Linked DNA regions of Homo sapiens: region 2 is linked to region 1. Evidence: fine-mapped expression QTL. Tissue or cell type: fibroblasts. Region 1 holds a variant in brackets; the other region holds the start of a gene. All regions are shown on one strand. Distances are from middle to middle. Region 1 overlaps MLLT3 (MLLT3 super elongation complex subunit). Region 2 holds the start of MLLT3 (MLLT3 super elongation complex subunit).

What was found. PIP is the estimated chance that this variant, and not a neighbour inherited with it, causes the effect.
Region 2: it holds the start of MLLT3, and the variant in region 1 is fine-mapped to the expression of MLLT3 in fibroblasts (GTEx, PIP above 0.99).

Annotation. Positions count from the first base shown.
Region 1 is chr9:20,594,456-20,602,455 of GRCh38, reverse strand. The region is part of intron 2 of MLLT3 (MLLT3 super elongation complex subunit); the gene reads left to right. Among named protein-coding and RNA genes, the nearest start is that of MLLT3, 24 kb to the left of the region's middle. The variant G/A (reference allele first, on the strand shown) is at 3,029.
Region 2 is chr9:20,618,554-20,627,347 of GRCh38, reverse strand. It overlaps MLLT3 (MLLT3 super elongation complex subunit), which reads left to right and starts at 4,849. Exons shown (of 11, transcript NM_004529.4): 1 at 4,849-5,103; 2 at 6,514-6,694. The coding sequence starts at 5,092. RefSeq lists silencers at 4,251-4,390, 4,411-4,870, 5,291-5,440, 5,511-5,560, 6,781-6,900 and an enhancer at 6,491-6,620.

The sequences.
Region 1 (8,000 bases):
AGTCAAAACATATAATTTGCCCATACATACAATTCCTTTATTGAAATTCTGACCACATTTAACCTTATTGAAAGCTTCTAGCTTGAATGAGTTTTGCTACATTGAATAAATACTATGCTGTATAGTTATTTATGTGCTTAAGAAGCTGAACTTTCATTCCATCCCAGTAAGTTCCCATGGGATAAGTTATTTTAGTAAATCAGAAAATTTCTCTGAAAGCAAAGTAATTCTTAATTTTTGGAGGCTTGAAAATGGAGAAAATAGCCATACGAGTTAGCGGGAAGAAGTTCTCATTGATTCATATCGCTAAAAAATAATTTAAAATACTTGTACTCTTAAATTATCGTGAGGGGGAAGAACCCACCACAGTGCTGCTGAATTGTTTTACTTCTGGGATTATATCTTTGTGTGTTTATAGGAGTGGGAACATTTTATCTTCTGTGTTTCTGTTGAGGTTGTTTTTCAGCAGTGCCCCAAGAAAAGTCCTGGAGTCTAGCTTTGAAGCCCGGTGGACAAGCTGGATATCAAAGAGCCAGAGGAATTCAGCAGTAATTGTTTTATGACTGGCCAGAAATCAGACCTATTTGTATAGGTAGCACACAAAATAGCTGTGATTTGACAATTTGGTGCTATTTATACCCACCATAAAAAGAGAAAAGAAAAAGTTAAAGGGATATTTTGGAAACAGGAACTAAGCTGTAAATGCAAATTGCTTCATTTTCTCAAAGGAACAAAAAAAGAAAGGGTTTAGGAAGTTTTTATTGAAGCTACATTATTGAGGATCTGTCTGCTTTCAGGACACTCAATATTGTACTCACATTGAAACTACACTTCTTTCTGTTTGCAGTTTTTTCCCTATTCCCATCTGACTAAAATTATTTTTGTGGAGCAAAAGAAACTCTGGGGGAGGAGGGATAGTGGAGTCACAAAGTTTCCAACTCTATCTTAGTAGACATTTACAGTTTCATATTGCTGTTGTTATTTAGCTTGGGGTAAGAACAGTCTGCTGTTGCTACAGCTAAGTATTTTTCCATATAAAAGTTACATATTTTCCACAGTCAGTTGCAGATCATTTATTATAGTGAAGTGTGAGACTTTGCTAGGTAAGTTTTCATGTGTTTTTTTAGAAACACGCAGAATAAACTTTCTACTTTCTATGACTATTTTTGATCTGGAAGCCAGAGACATCTTTTTGAATACAAAACGCCTTAATTATTTGTTCCTCTCACCTGGAGAATATTCTGAACTAAAGGTGGGCAGTGTATCATGGTATGTCTCTACTTAAGTGGGTAGCCCAAAGTGAAGTTTGTTTCCAGAATGTCATTCTGACGTTTTGACGTTGTCAAATGCTTCATTGTTTTGCCTCCAAACCCCAGCCCCTAGAGCAATCTGAGTCTGGGGGCAACGGTGCAGAGAAAAAGCAAACATGTCTGTGATTGACTACACTTTTTTTTTATTTAAAGAAACCCTAGAAATGCCTTAGGGACCCCTGGGGCTTTGTCACAATTTAAAGCCATTTTACCATTGAAGGTGCCGTTGAATTTTGACTGTATTAATTTGCTTTGGTTTAAATTTTTTCCCATTGGATTCTGATTCTCCCATAATAAGTAGAGTGATCTATGTCATGTATACCTTACTTTCTAGGGGAAGGCTCTATAGTTATGGCTGGATGAAAATAGTTCACTGGGGTAGGATAAAAGAAGTGGAAATGGGTGGAGATAATTGGGTGTTCAGGCAGTCAGTTCTGGCTTTGAAAGAAGAGTAAGGTTTAAGATGGTGTGTGAAGGATCAGAAGCTTCTGAGTAAGGATTTAAAATGGGAATCTCCCAAAAGCCTAAAATCTAGTTGGATTTCAAGGTGGGTTCCTTAATCGGGAAATAGGTGACATCACTCTATAGAGAAGAAACATTTGGATTGCTGTTATTCCTGAGGAGTGTGAACACTCAGATGGGAAAAGAAGGATACATCCTTACAGAATATTTTCATGGGTTGAGAATGTACACCAGTTGGGGTTGGTTAAGGAAGGGGTTGTATTTCTAAAGTATTGATTACTTATTCAGCCAACATTGAGCACCATCTATGTGCCAGGCACTGCAGTAAACATGGAGGATAGCAACAAAACAGACGTGGTTCTTACCTTCTGGAAATGCTTAGTCTGGCATCAGGCATGTTTTCCATACACACAAACACAATAACAGCACAACAAGATGAGTGCTTTTATGAAGCTATGAAAAATGAAGCTGTGGAAACAGAGTTCTGAGTGTTTAGTACTGCCCAGGTATCAGAATTTGAACTAAGTGTTTTTTTTTTGTTTTTTGTTTTTTTTTTTTGGACAACATTGCAAGTGAAATGTTTGATAAGAAAGAGAATCAGTGTGGATTTAAAAAAATTATCCTGAATCTGTCAAAGATGGATTTTCATCTCTTTGAGGGTTCTCTTTATAAGGCTGTATAAGTGCAGTGTTCTTGCAATTTCTGAACTCACTGGGTTAGCATCGTACAATATAATATTATATAGGTGAAAAAAGAAGAAAGCTAAGCAATTTATAGTTACTGAAGGTTTAATTTTACACCTTGTTATTTTACAGACGTGGCATCCAAGACTGAAGATTAACTAACTTGCCCATGGTCCATGTGGCCTATGAATATGGTGACTCTATGTCCTGTTTTGCTGAGGACAGTCCAAGTATATACCTATTGTCCTGTGTTGGTGTCAGAACTATTGCTCTTTGGATGATAGATTATATAGTCACCCTTTTTTAGAGTGGCATAACTAAGATTTAAACTCAGGCCTTTTGACTCCAAGTCCTAAGCTCATCACTGTTTTACTCTGTTTATACCATGCTTCTAGGTCATATCTCTACTTTTAGGTTGGTCTAATGAGAAGGATTCTGAGGCCTAAGTCTGGCTTAGTACAATATTCAGTTCTTGGTTATGTTTACCATGGACAATGGGGAGAAACATGAGAGGTTTCATGCTACCTTTTTTTTTTTTTTTTAAACATCTGGTTACTAATTGTTTCAGAATGT[G/A]ATTTAGTTTTCCTTCAGAAATTCTGAAGGCATTTGAGGAACTTTATGTCTTAGGATTGTATTTATAAATATTAGTCATCATTGCATGATACTCAAAGAAAATTCTCTTTTTTTTTTTTTTTTGGAGACAGAGTCTTACTCTGTCGCCCAGGCTGACGTGCAGTGGCACGATCTTGGCTCACTGCAACCTCCATCTCCCTGGTTCAAGTGATTCTCCTGTCTCAGCTTCCTGAGTAGCTGGGACTGCAGGCGCGTGCCACCATGCCCAGCTAATTTTTGTATTTTTAGTAGAGACAGGGTTTCACCATGTTGGCTAGCATGGTCTCGATCTCTTGACCTCGTGATCTGCCCGCCTTGGCCTCCCAAAGTACTGGGATTACAGGCGTGAGCCACCGCGCCTGGCCTACTCAAAGAAAATTCTAATGATTTGAGTCCTCTGGATACGTGGAAATTTGGCACATCTCTTAATCATTGAATATTGTGCTTTTCCCTTTAATTTTTGTTTCCCTTTCTTAACCTAATCAGAAGCCTAAAGCAGCAGAATAGGGTTTGAGGAAAGTAACTCTAATTTGGAAAAGAAAATTGGAAACTTATGTTGTGATTTGCTTAAATTGATTAGCATTGCCACCAGGTTTTCTGGACAGCTTTTGAGTGAATCACCTTTATTTGGTTTCACTTAAATAGCTCAGCACTTCATAAAGGTAGTTTTAGAAGTGTACTGTCTATCAGGTAAATTAGCTAAAACTTAGATGGATTCAGTTTACTGATCATCACTTCTGGTAATTAGATAACTTTATTTTGTTTTGTGTCATTTGTCTTATATACTGTCTGAGCAGTGCTTCACTGAAGGCTGTAGTGTCCTCACCTAAAGAATGACTAATGGCAACTGTTAGAATGATAAAAGCAAAACTAAAGCCATTTTTGAGAACTTACAGGTTGGATGGTTATTGGGGTGGGATGGAAATGCCTTATGTTGCACATCCTACTTCTCTTCCAAATTTACACATCTAGTTAGACATATGGCTTCTCTGCCCTCAGAGACTCATATGTGGGGCGAAGGGGAGATAGATTTGTAAGTGGATAAATTTCAGTGTAATTTAAATAAGTTATAGTTTGGTAGGAACGGAGTTTTTTGGGAACATAAAGTGGTAAGTAGAGATTGAAGATGAGCACAGTAATGTTTCCATTTATATAGCAGATGTTTGAACCTGAATCTTTCATATTTTATATCATTTTTGGTTTCTACAGCATTTTATGTTGGTTTGCTTCTCTTTTCAGAGACTGTTTATGACCCAACTTGAACAATGTAATGAAATTCTTCTTTAGCTCAAGCTGTTATGAATCCAAAAATAGATCTGGGCTAAGATTAGACTTTGTGGCACAAATTGTGGTTTGTTAGGTTGTGGCTGTCTTTCTTCCAACAAATAAATGTAAATTAACAATTATTTAGAAGTAAAGCAAATGTTGCTGAGACAGAAACAGGACCTGGTTGATTTTAAATGGTGCTTTGGAACACTAAGCAGATATCTAAGTTTAAAGAACTATTTGGAAAAAAATTGTTTTAGTTAAAAAATATTAGTAAGCTTCTATAGAATGGCAGAATTGGTGACTGCAGTTCTATAGGAACCTTACTTATTGTAATCTCTTACTCCTTTTATTTTCCATTTCTTTTTGTTTCTCTTCTGAAAATTCAAAAGCATGAAATAGGCTTCACAGAAAGAAAAAACAAAGCTAGTAATTACAAGACGCTAAAACTTTCTTATCTTATTGGTCAAGTGCAATACATGACACCACTCTGCAGTAATACTGGTGTTCAGAAGAGTTATGGAAGAATCTAGTAATAAACATAGTAAGAAGAAGGAGGGATGAACCTCATTTGTATGGTTGAAAAGTAGATGGTCTTCTGAGGCTCTTAACAGTATATGAAGGTAAATTTGTTGTAAAGGAAATCTTATTCAGATTTTTAATATGATGTCTATACAAATTACTTGTGGGACAAGGATGATCTATTTCTGCAGTAAGACCTCTAGCTCCTTATGGACAGGATTTTTTTTTTTTTTAAGTCACTGTGTTACTCAGACCTTTGCACATAAGTGGTATTAAATAACAACTTTATAGTAAGACACCTTTGTAAGGCCCTAGATAAATAAAAGTACTTCAGTGGCCTACTGTGTGCCAGGCTGAGTACTGGGTACTCTCCAATAATTACCTTATTAGTCTAATGATCCCTATGAATTGAGGTACTACCTGTACTATCCCCATAATGGATGAATTTATCAAGGTTATAGCATACAAGATTAGTATAAAAAGATAGTATTTCTACGTACTTGCAATGAACAATCTGAAAATGAAATTAAGGAAACAATTTTATTTATAATAGCATCAAAAAGAGTAAAATACTTAGGAACACATTTAACAAAACAGATGTGAAATTTGTGCTGTGAAACTACAAAACATTGTTGAAAGAAATAGAGGACTATTTAAATAAATGAAAAAATATTCCATGTTCATGGATTGGGAGACTTAATATTACGATGGCAATACTCCCCCAAATTGCTTCAGGTTACATACAGTCCCTATCAGTCAGAACTCCAACTGGCTTCTTTGTAAATTGACAAGCTGATTTAAAATTAATGTGTAATTGCAAGGGACCCATAATAATATTTTGTGAGTGAGACTACATTTTTAATGTTTTCAAGCAGCTTATTATTTTATTTTATTTATTTATTTTTTGAGATGGAGTCTTGCTTTGTGGCCCAGCCCAGGCTGGAGTGCAGTGGCACATCTCAGCTCATTGCAACCTCCAGCTCCTGGGCTCAAGCGATTCTCATGCCTCAGCCTCTCAAGTAACTGGGACTACAGGCATGCACCACCATGCCCAGCTAATTTTTTGTATTTTTAGTAGAGACAAGGTCTCACCATGTTGGCCAGGCTGGTCTTGAACTCCTGACCTCAGGTGATCCGCCTGCCTTGGCCTCCCAAAGTGCTGGGATTATAGGCGTGTGCCACCATGCCTGGCCAGAGCTTATTATTTTAAATGAAAACTGCAAATCAGTTTTTAAAAATCAGTCATGAAAATAGGGACGTCTTAAATCAGGGTACTCCTATACATTTAATTAAATGCCATAGTTTTCCTGGTAATTCAGTGTTTTGGGGTAGGTTTAAAGCTTTATAAATTTAATTCCGCAAGCTTTTATTCAGCATTTATTTTTTGTAGTCAAGAAAACATGCTATAAGAAAGTTCAATGGAGGCAATTCCTGATACAGAATTATCTGGTGATAAAAGCTTATAAAATAGTTTTATAAGTTTTTCAAGTTTTCCCTTAAGCCTGCCCATAATTTAAGCTTGTGACTTTTTATATTGTCTTTCATGGCTAGGTTTGTTTATACCCTGCAGCAGTACTGTCTAAAACAATAGCCACTAGACATATGTGGCTTTTAAAATTTAAATTATTTAAAATAAAACATTTAATTCCTCAGTCACTTGCCACATTTGAGGACTTAACAGTCATGGGTAGCTAGTGGCTGCCGTATTGGACAGAGCTAGGTAGAGAAATGGTAACAGATTTCCCGGACTTCTTTTTACAGTGGGATTCAGATAGTATATGTGCTTTTGTGAGGGATAAAAAGTAGAGGAAAAGAATCTGATAAGACTTTTTATATAAAATCGTGTCTTTCTTTTTTTGTGGTTACTGCTACTAGCATTATGACACTTTGTATCTTTCAAACGTCATGTGCTACAATAATCTTTTCTCTAATGGTCTTAGCATCTACTGCTGATCTTTTTTTGATGAGCTTGAATTAACTATTTTATTGGGGTTGCAAATTGGTGATTTTCCTTCTTTGATAACGCTTATGTTTCAAATGATAGATACAGGATCTATTCTATTTTTCCTGTTTATGGTTTTGACAAAATTTTATATTGTGACAAATGTTTCCTGTGTCTGATTTTATGGATAACTTAGTGAAGTATGTGGTAATATAAAATTATAATATAAATTATAAAGTAATATAACCTTATTTTTCCAGTAATTTTTATTTTATTTTATTGTTTTTTGAGATAGGGTCTTGCTCTGTCACTCAGGCTGGAGTGCAGTGGTATGTATGAAGACGATTCACTGCTGCCTCAGTCTCCTGGGATCAAGCGATCCTCCTGTCTCAGCCTCTTGTGTAGCTGGATCCACAGGCACACACCTCCATGCCTGGCTAATTTTTTCTTTTCTTCTTCTTTTTGTAGAGATGGAGATCTCACTTTGTTGCCTAGGCTGGTCTTGAACTCCTTGGCTCAAATAGTCCTCCCGAATTGGCCTCTCAAAGTGCTGGGATGACAGTTGTGAGCCACGGCACCCTGCAACCCCCATGCCCAGTAATTTTTTTTTTAAGTGAAAGTAAGTTTATTAGAGAAGTAAAGAAACAAAAGAATGGCTACTCCATAGGCAGAGCAGCAGTATGAGCTGCTGTTTGGACATTTTTATGGTTATTTCTTGATTATATGCTAAACAAGGGGTGGATTATTCATGAGTTTTATGGGAAGGGGCTGGGCAATTCCTGGAACTGAGGGTTCCTCTCCTTTTTGGACCATACAGGGGAACTTCCTGACATTGCTGTGGCATTTGTAAACTATCTTGGCATTGGTGGGAGTGTCTTTTACCATGCTAATGCGTTATAATTAGCATATAGTGAGCAGTGAGGATGACCAAAGGTCACTTTCATCGCCTTCTTGGTTTTGGTGGGTTTTGGCGGGTTTTGGCTGACTTCTTTACCTCAGTCTGTTTTGTAAGCAGGGTCTTTATGACCTATGTCTTGTGCCAACCTTTTGTCTTATCCTGTGACTAAGACTGCCTTAATCTTCTGGGAATGTAGCCCAGTAATTCTCAGCCTTATTTTACCCAGCCCCTATTCAACATGGACTTGCTCTGGTTCAAACACCTCTGACATATTGCCCCCCTCCCTTTTATAAGAGAACCCTTAA
Region 2 (8,794 bases), 24 kb before region 1:
TTTTTAGTAGAGACAAGGTTTCACCATGTTGGCCAGGATGGTCTCGATCTCTTGACCTCATGATCTGCCCACCTCGGCCTCCCAAAGTGCTGGGATTACAGGCGTGAGCCACTGTGCCCGGCTAGGAGTTACTTCTTTTTCCTAAGTTTTTGGCAGTTTTTGTTGAAGTTTGAGCTGTCCAAATTAGTTCATAGGCCTGATATGTTATTTTTCCATTTTTACCAAAAAGACAAAATATATTTTATTATTTTAAGATAAAGTGATTATTTTAAGCCCTGATTCATTATATGTGAGTGGGAGAGGTGAACTCATATATAAAAACAAACAGAATTTCCATTAAAAATAAAAGAGATCAAATCATTACATAAAGAAAGAAGGAACATTGCACAGTAGCGTTTGAAGAGATGCCAGAGATACATAAAGATATAGTCATTTGGTCTACTTTTTAGATAGATTGTTTTACAGCAAGCATTTTCAACTCAATATGTATTTTACCTAGAACTATTCCACTAAGCATCCTGTATATATTAGGGAGACTCTTTCAATCACTCTATATCAACTGTCCCCCAATACTTATTTTGTTTCATATTGCTGGTTTTACACGACATCCTTGATTAATTTTCAGGCCTTGAGGTGCTACTTATTAAATTAAGGATACAGCCCACTAAATTAATAAATTATTACAGTGGAGGCACTCTTGTCTTCTGCATGTATAAGTGCATTGCTTAAATTACTCTCAGGGAATAATTTACACATGAAGAGGCACTGGTGGTTAAAAAAGCTCTGTGTATTTCTTATCTCTGGAAATAGTCCTGGACTAGGTGCTCAAACGGCTATCAAAGCAATCTTTTTTTCAAAATAGTAATGAGTCTTACCATTCTAGTGTTCCCACACTATCCTAGAATCATGAATTAAATATAATGTTAAACATGTAACATTTTGAACCAAAAATTTCCATAAGAAATGGGGAGATGATTTCAACTGAGAATTGCTCATGATCTTGAAAAGACTTAGCTTTCTTTCATTGTGGGATTTTTTTTTTTCTCCCTAAAAGAGCTGTAAAAAAGTGAACATACAAAATACTTCAGATCAAGAAAAAGGAAAGTAGGAACTGGCTGCTGTTGCAAGAAAGATATCTGCCTCTCCCCACCTTTTAAGTATTAAAAGGTGGAATTAAGGACAATGACTCCTGGCTTCTAATCTCATGCCACTGTTTTTCCTGTCCTTGGGCTGTTCATGTCAGGTTTCTATGCTCCTCGCTTATATATGACACGCATCTTATCCCAAATTTAGCTGTTATGAAATTTAAAAAAAAAAAAGTTTTTGGCGAAACTTCTCCCCTGGTTTATAAACTCTGATATCAGGAATCCTGTCATTCTTACAGTCTTAGGGCCTAACTCTCTGCCTGAGACGTGGAATGATTTTGTGAATAAACACATGGATGCAGTACACAGAAAAAGGTGCACAATTATGGAAGAAGAATCCTTAATTACTTTGAGTCTGATTTTTGCAAAATGTCTATTTAGAGTCTGGCACATTTTCTAGTTTTTTCCATGCTTCTTCTTCCTCTTTTCTCCCCAAGTCTATACAGCAATGACGGGAAATAAATGGTAAATTTTTATTGATTTGAATTTGTGCATCAATTATCTATCACAACAAATAGATAAGTTTATTTTAGGATGCTCCTTAACACTCTAATTACACGTTAAAGGCCCTCTCTTTGTTCTGCCAGAAACATGGAAACTGGCTTTAGCTTCCAGACTAAAGAAAACAATTGCAAATAAAAAGGCTGGAGCCAAAATGATGGTGGTAGGGCAATGGTGATGGTAGTGGTGGTAGTGATCTGTCACAGACACTGTTCTCTTTTATTCTTCATCACGATTTTTATTTGATATGTTAATTACTTTTCTGATCTTCAAACTAACCCCATGGTGCTTCATACTGTGCTATATACAACAGTATGAATTTTGGTAAGATAATTATTCTTTGGATAAGTAGATGATTTTATCCCTCACCACTTCCATTTTAGTTATTATATTACTATTTCTGTATTTAGCACTGAAGTTTGTCTTAAAATTTCTTTACAGTACATTTTCTATAACCACATTGTCAAGTACACAAAAGGTTATTTTCCACATTTTTACCTCACGTTAAAGTGTGAAGATCTGCACAGGAAATTAATCGATTTTAATTGTTTTTAATGGCAAGCTTATTAAAATAGGTTGTAATTAATAAATTGACAGACTTGCATAAATTTCTTTGTCCAAAGTTGAAGGGAGAGTATTCAGTCTTGTGTTTTCTTTTCTTTCTTTTCTCCCCCTTCCTGATCTTTTTGTTGTGAAGGGGTCACGTAAGGACGTCCGTGGAAGAGCTCCGTGCGCCATCTACTGACGGAATCTAAATGTCCAGTATTTGGAGATTGGGAGTAACTACGTTGGGTTGTTAGAGCATTCTTTGAGGAAGGAGGGGTACTGGGAAAATACCCTTTCAGACTCTATGGCTTATTAGTGATTGCTGGAATAAATCTGAATTCAGCAAACACATAATTCAAAAAAGAGACCTCTATCTGTTGTGCGGGTACAAGTTTTGGAGACAATCTCAAGAGAGTCCGGTGGCTGGCGCCGGAAGAAGTTAAACCCTGAAATGAACTCAAACGGGGAATGGGATTGTTGTTTTTTGCCTGTGTCCTGAGCTACACTCGCTGTTAATGGTTACTTCTTAATAAGAAATGGCTTTACTAATGGCACGTCCAGATAACCTTTAGTTTCCAATACTATTATTACAAAGGACTGCTCTCAAATTTGATTATTTTATGAAAAGTTTAATAATGCACAATAAATAGGTCCCCCCTTCACGTAGATACTACCCACACAGCTTGTCTCTGCGAATATAAACGTAGTCCTTGTACATACATACAGACACAGCGACGCATATACCTACAGGATGATATGCAGTTATGTATATGTGTGTCAGTTGACAAATCTAAGCCCTTGGATTTAGATTAAAATGTTTCTACCTTCAGTCGTTTGCTCCATTCTATGCTAAATCCTGTAGAAGGCTGGGAAGAACTGGGGACCTCAAGCCAAAGAAGTTTCTTGATTATAACTGACAGGCAGCGGAATATCAGTTTTAGGGAATCAAAAGTTGAGTTGGAAGGCTGCTGGTTTGGAAACTAAGGTTGGTTCCAAGTGGTCCGACCTGATTCCCAGGATCTTTGTGAGAGCTGCTGGGAGAACTGAAAATTAACAGCGAGGACACAGGACGCCCTAGGTAACGTCCTCCCCGCTATTCTGCTCTTCTCAATTCAAGGGCCGAGACAACTTGCTTTTGTGGAAAAGGGAAGTAAAGGGAAAAGAGGAAAGCAAGGAAGTTCAGTCAGAAAGAGGAAGAGGGACAAAGAGGAAAGAAAGGGACAAAGAGGAAAGAAAGGGACAAAGAGGAAAGAAAGAGGGACAAAGAGGAAAGGCAAGGAGAAGAGAAGGAAAAATCAAGGTTCAGCAAGAAGTTGGAAGGCGAGGGAAAAAGGGGAGTAAAGAGAAGGCAAAAGAGGTCTAAGGGCTAGGAAGATGCAAGGATCTTTTTTTAACGAACCAAAGTCACATCCATCTTTCACTTTCAAATCAATCGTCTAGATCTTATCCGTTTCCTTTTTAAAGGTTATCTGCGTCTGTAAAGGAAGCCAGTAGTTGATACTCCTCTCCGCGCCCCACGCGTGGCCGCGCTGTTCTATCTCCGGCCACTGAGATCAAATACAACGCGAGTGAGAACATTTGCAGAGGCGCGACTCTGGGAACACTCCTGCGACTGGCTGTCACCCGGGAGTCTAACCGGATTAATACTCAGAGATGGATTACGCTGGTTGTCACCAATACGCCTAAAGATTATAATCCAATTTACGCACATTACAGTCAGTATTAACTTTATCTGCTATTTTAAGACTCCCGGTTGCCCCGCGCGTCCTCAGAGGACAATCCTCCACGTTCTGATGCAACTCAGTAGGCTGTCAGGAGGGGAAGCCCCCCGAAGAAAACAACTCCAAGCCTGGTCCCCGAGGGTCTGTACCCGGCACTCCCAGGTGTCTTGCTTTCACCTGGGCACCGCTTTATGAAGCTTCCCAGCCGGGGATTACCAAAGCGGAAGGCGTTCCCTTGCAAGGAAATAGCATCCTTGTTTCTCCCTTGTTCATTTCATTTTCAAATTTTCGGTGGCGGTGGCAGAAGGGCGGGGAGTGAGGGTGGCGGGCGGGTGCCTGTGAGTGGATGGGGCAGGGGGCCAGGGGATCGTTGCGGGTTAGAACAGCCTCAGTCATTGCTATTTTCATGCTCGTTTTTTGCAGGATGGCATTTCTCTCGCTCTCTTTAAGTAAGTTTGTTTGGGTGTGAGTTCTTGTCTTTTCAGCACAAAACCACAGAAATACGTGGTGGAAAGTAAAAGAAAGCCCACTCCCTCCTCCCCGTGCGTACTAGCTAAGGACTTGATTTAACACCCCCTCTCCGGCTGCTGAGGGCTCTAAGCAGTGGCTACATTCCAGCAGTTTTAATCCGTTTTTTATTGTAGGGCGAGCAGAGTTTACACAGGGGCTGGGATGGCTCCCCAGCTGGCCGCTCTCCCCACTCCTGCGTCCCCTCCCTGCCACCCCCCCAGCAGGAACCTGTTACTTTAAGCGAGGCTTTCCAGTGTGGCGCTGCGGGCCGCCGGGGTTTCGGGAGGTGGCAGGTGATTGGCTCTTTCGAGCTCCCCCTGGCTCGCTCGCTCTGCCTCCCCGCGCGCTCCGCCCCGCCCGCAAGCCCTCCCTCCGCCCTGTGAGGCTCGGAGCCCGGGTGTCAGGCGCCACGGCGCATGCTCCGCAATCATCTTCTTTACCCTGGAGCTGCTGCTGCTGCTGCTGCTTTTGCTTTTGGGGCTGAGTTTAATAAGCGAGCGAGCGAGCAAGCGAGCGCGGGGGGAAAAAGGCAGAGAATGTCCGCCATCTACCCTCCGCTCCTGGGCGCGCTCTCATTCATAGCAGCCTCTTCATGAATTACAGCTGAGGGGGGGCGGAGGAGGGGGGGGTACCACACAACACCCCAGCAAACCTCCGGGCCCCCAGGCATGGCTAGCTCGGTAAGTACGCGCAAAAATAATAATAAAAGCCCTCCCCCACTTTCCTTCCTCGCCCTGCGCCGCCGCAGCCCAGACAGCGCCAGCGCTCCGCGGTTCCAATTAGAGAAAGGTTGGTACGGCTTGCAGGGAGCTGCCGCCTCTCCCTCAGCCTCCGCTCCCCTCCTCCCCCACCCCCCCCCGGCGCGCACACAGACACACAGACACACACACACTCACACACGCTCACACTCGCCCCTCCACCCCCCGCGCCTCCCTCCCTCCTCGCCTCTTTGCAGTCACAAGAAGCGCACTCACACACTCCCTCTCGCTCACACGCGCGCACTCACACACACACACACACACGGTGGAAGGAGGCGAATAATAACTCAGCCATATTTCAGCCGCCGCCGCCGGGAGCTGCGGGCACAGTCCGGGGACGCGGCGAGCAGCCTCGGCGGCCGCACCTCCGCAAAGCGCCGCGGCCGCTACGATGGTGCGTTCTCCGCGGCGCGCGTGTGTGAGCCGAAGTGTGCGGGGCTGACAGCGGCGGGGCCGCACGCAACTTTGCCCCAGCGCCGGGAGGTGCTGAGCGCGAGCCGAGGCTCGGCGGCTGTCCGCCCGCCGCCCTGCCTTTCTGAATTTCATTTTTTGGGGGGAGGTGGGAGATACTTTGGAGCCACTTGGGCTCTTGAAAGTGTGTTGCGGGGGCTCGGTTCGACTGGCCTCGCCGATCGCGTGGGGCTTTTCGCTGGGGGGTGCGGGGTGCTCTAAGTTATGGATGCCTCGGCGTGTTTTCCTGCGGGCGTGTGTGTGTGTTTCAGTGTGTATGACGACGTCTCATTTTTGTTGTGCACGAACCCCGTGGCAAGAGCACGGGAGTTTGTGCCCATCAGCAGAGGCTGCCTGTAGTTTCCATTTCGCCTGGCACAGCGCTCCACACGCACGCACACACACGTACACAAAGACTTCCTCGGCGTGTGCCTGTCGCCGCGGTACTTTCGGGGAGGGGGCTCGCCAGGAGCCCTTCGGTCCCCCTGGGTCCCAGCCACCTCCCCTCCCACGCCGGGAAACCGCCCCGGCATCGCCTTCTGATTTGTTTCCGATGCATTTGTTGTCGTGCTTGTCGTGGCTGAGTGTGTTCTCCCTCTTTTCCCCGACCCCCTTCCCGACTGGGGATAACATTCCGTTACAATCCTGTCCGATGTAGATGCGGGGCCCGGGGCGCCTGGGGCCAAGCCGGGCCGGGCGGGCGGGTATATTTGGGGGTGTGGAGTGTGCGCGCCCACGCGCGTGAAACGTGGATGCAGAGGGCACCGCCGTTTCCTTTTATGTGCGTTTCAAGAAGGAGGAAAAAAATGTCAGGCGCAACGTTCACTGCCGAAACCTCGCCTTCCTGTTATTCACGGCTGTCTCTCCTCCCCCTGCCCGCAGTGTGCCGTGCAGGTGAAGCTGGAGCTGGGGCACCGCGCCCAGGTGAGGAAAAAACCCACCGTGGAGGGCTTCACCCACGACTGGATGGTGTTCGTACGCGGTCCGGAGCACAGTAACATACAGCACTTTGTGGAGAAAGTCGTCTTCCACTTGCACGAAAGCTTTCCTAGGCCAAAAAGAGGTAGGGCTCGAATACAAAAGGGTCTTGATAAAAAATGTCTTTGAAACAATCGCTTGGCCCGGGCGGTCCCGCTGTCCCGCTCCCCGCCCCCCGCGCCGCGCTCGCCGGCGTAGCCTCGGGATCCGGGTGCGCGGCGCCGCGCGGGCCAGGTCCCGGCTCCCGCCTGCCCGCGCGCGCGCCACTTCGGCTTGGTGAAAGTCACCGCAGAGAAAGGACCGTCAGGTGTCGAGTGTTTATTCATCCCAAGCCAGCCCTCACCAGTCCTCTGGGGTTAGCCGCGGGTTCTGTGGGGAAGGTGCAATTAGTTGTTGAGTTTGGAGATGTGGGGAATCGGGCTGGAGGGAATAAACACTTTGCGCGTGTGTGTGTGTGTGTGTGTGTGTGTGTGTGTGTGTGTGTGTTTTCCTAGAGAAATTAAGATTTACCTGTGTTATTAGCAAAGAATGTATTGGATGTAGTTATTGTTCGGTCTTGGCAAGTCGGTTCTCTTTAGGGTCTTCTGTGCTTTCCTGTCTGTGTATGAGGCACCAGGTGCCAGTTGCCATAGACTTTTCTTTTTGTGGCTTAGCCACCGCCACACCCACTCCAGTCTGGATTTTATGTTTACTTGGGGGGCTTACTCGTTCCTCCCTCCCACCCCCGCGTGCCACTTGACTGCTCCTTTGATTCTGAGCAACGTTCCAAAGTGTCTGCCGGATGTGATCTGCAGGGAGACTGTTCTTGCAAAGGTCGAAGCTAAGTTGAAGAGGAACGATGTGGAGGAAGCCTTTTGCTTTAGTCCCTCCCCACCTTGGTTCTTAGCCTTGGAGTCTAGTTTGCATAATCCTACTGGGCCTCTGTGGTCCCAAACATTTTCCATAATGGGCAGGACAGTTTTGGAAAAAAGAAACGGAGTGTCATTTTGAAAGAAATTTAAAGAGGGTTTGAGAAATACCGATTTCTTTTCCCTTCAACCTCTGGAAAACTAATGTCTGGTTGTTTTAGTTGGATTAGTGAAGGTAACAGTACAAATACAATAAGGTGCTTTGTTTGTGAGCAGGTTTATTTATCTAAGTCGACACAATGGTTAGTAGTTATCTTCCATTTGATCCGTAATCTTTATTGGCATCTAGAACTCCTGTCGTTTCTTAGAGTAATATCATAATAAATCCATTCTGCTTAGAGCTGTGTGGAAATTATTGAACATTCAGGGGGCTGAATAAAGAAAGGAGAAGCGTCGTGTGCCTTAGAGGTGGCAGAGGTTTGTATTGGTGCTTAGTTTTGTTTCCAGAGCTCATGTAATGGGAAGTAGGATTGTATTTTTTGCCTTTAGTGGTTTGGTTTATAACTCCTCCTGAAAACTTGAACGGTTGAATTTGATGGTCTTTGTTGGATGGTTAATAAATAAATCCAGTTTCTTATAGAGGGCTAGAAATATGCATGGCCTATAGGAAATAACATTTGAAATTTGTTAGCATTTTATGTTAAAATATAGTCAGAGATTATTATATTTCATATTTCCTCCAAACTGTGGTAAGGATGAGCGATGTCAAATTTCTATCGCTGATGAGGTTGATATGCTGCTTCTCGGATTCTCTCTCTCCCTTTCCATGTGTCTGTAGAGCAGAGGAGTTTAAACAAAAGAAACCACTTTCTAAGATCCTTGGTACACATTATTACTACTACTTGGCTGCAGTTCACTTCAAGGTGAAATAAGCTTTTAAAAAGCAACATTTATTAGGAAAATTAACTCAGTTGGCAGAAGATGTAGCTCTTAAGGTAACTTTGTTTAGGCACCTTGACAATCAACAAATTGGCATTATGAAATTAAAGATGATCAACCTCTATTTTACCATTGTTTTTCTGCTTCAGTGGATGTGTGCATTGATGTTATTTTTATTTCCTATACTTAATGATTTTCTGTCTGCCCTGAGGGAACATGAGGGTGCTGCTCACATAGGCCACACCTGGGAGTTGTTGCTAGGCGTGGTAAGCTGCTTGATAGCAGTGATGACTTCTCAGAGGTCTCTGGTGAGAGATGTCTGCTTGTTGGTTGGATTCCTCAATTTTTATACTCAACTGTGGAGGTTCTCTATGCAGTCTATAAGCCATTGTTTTAAA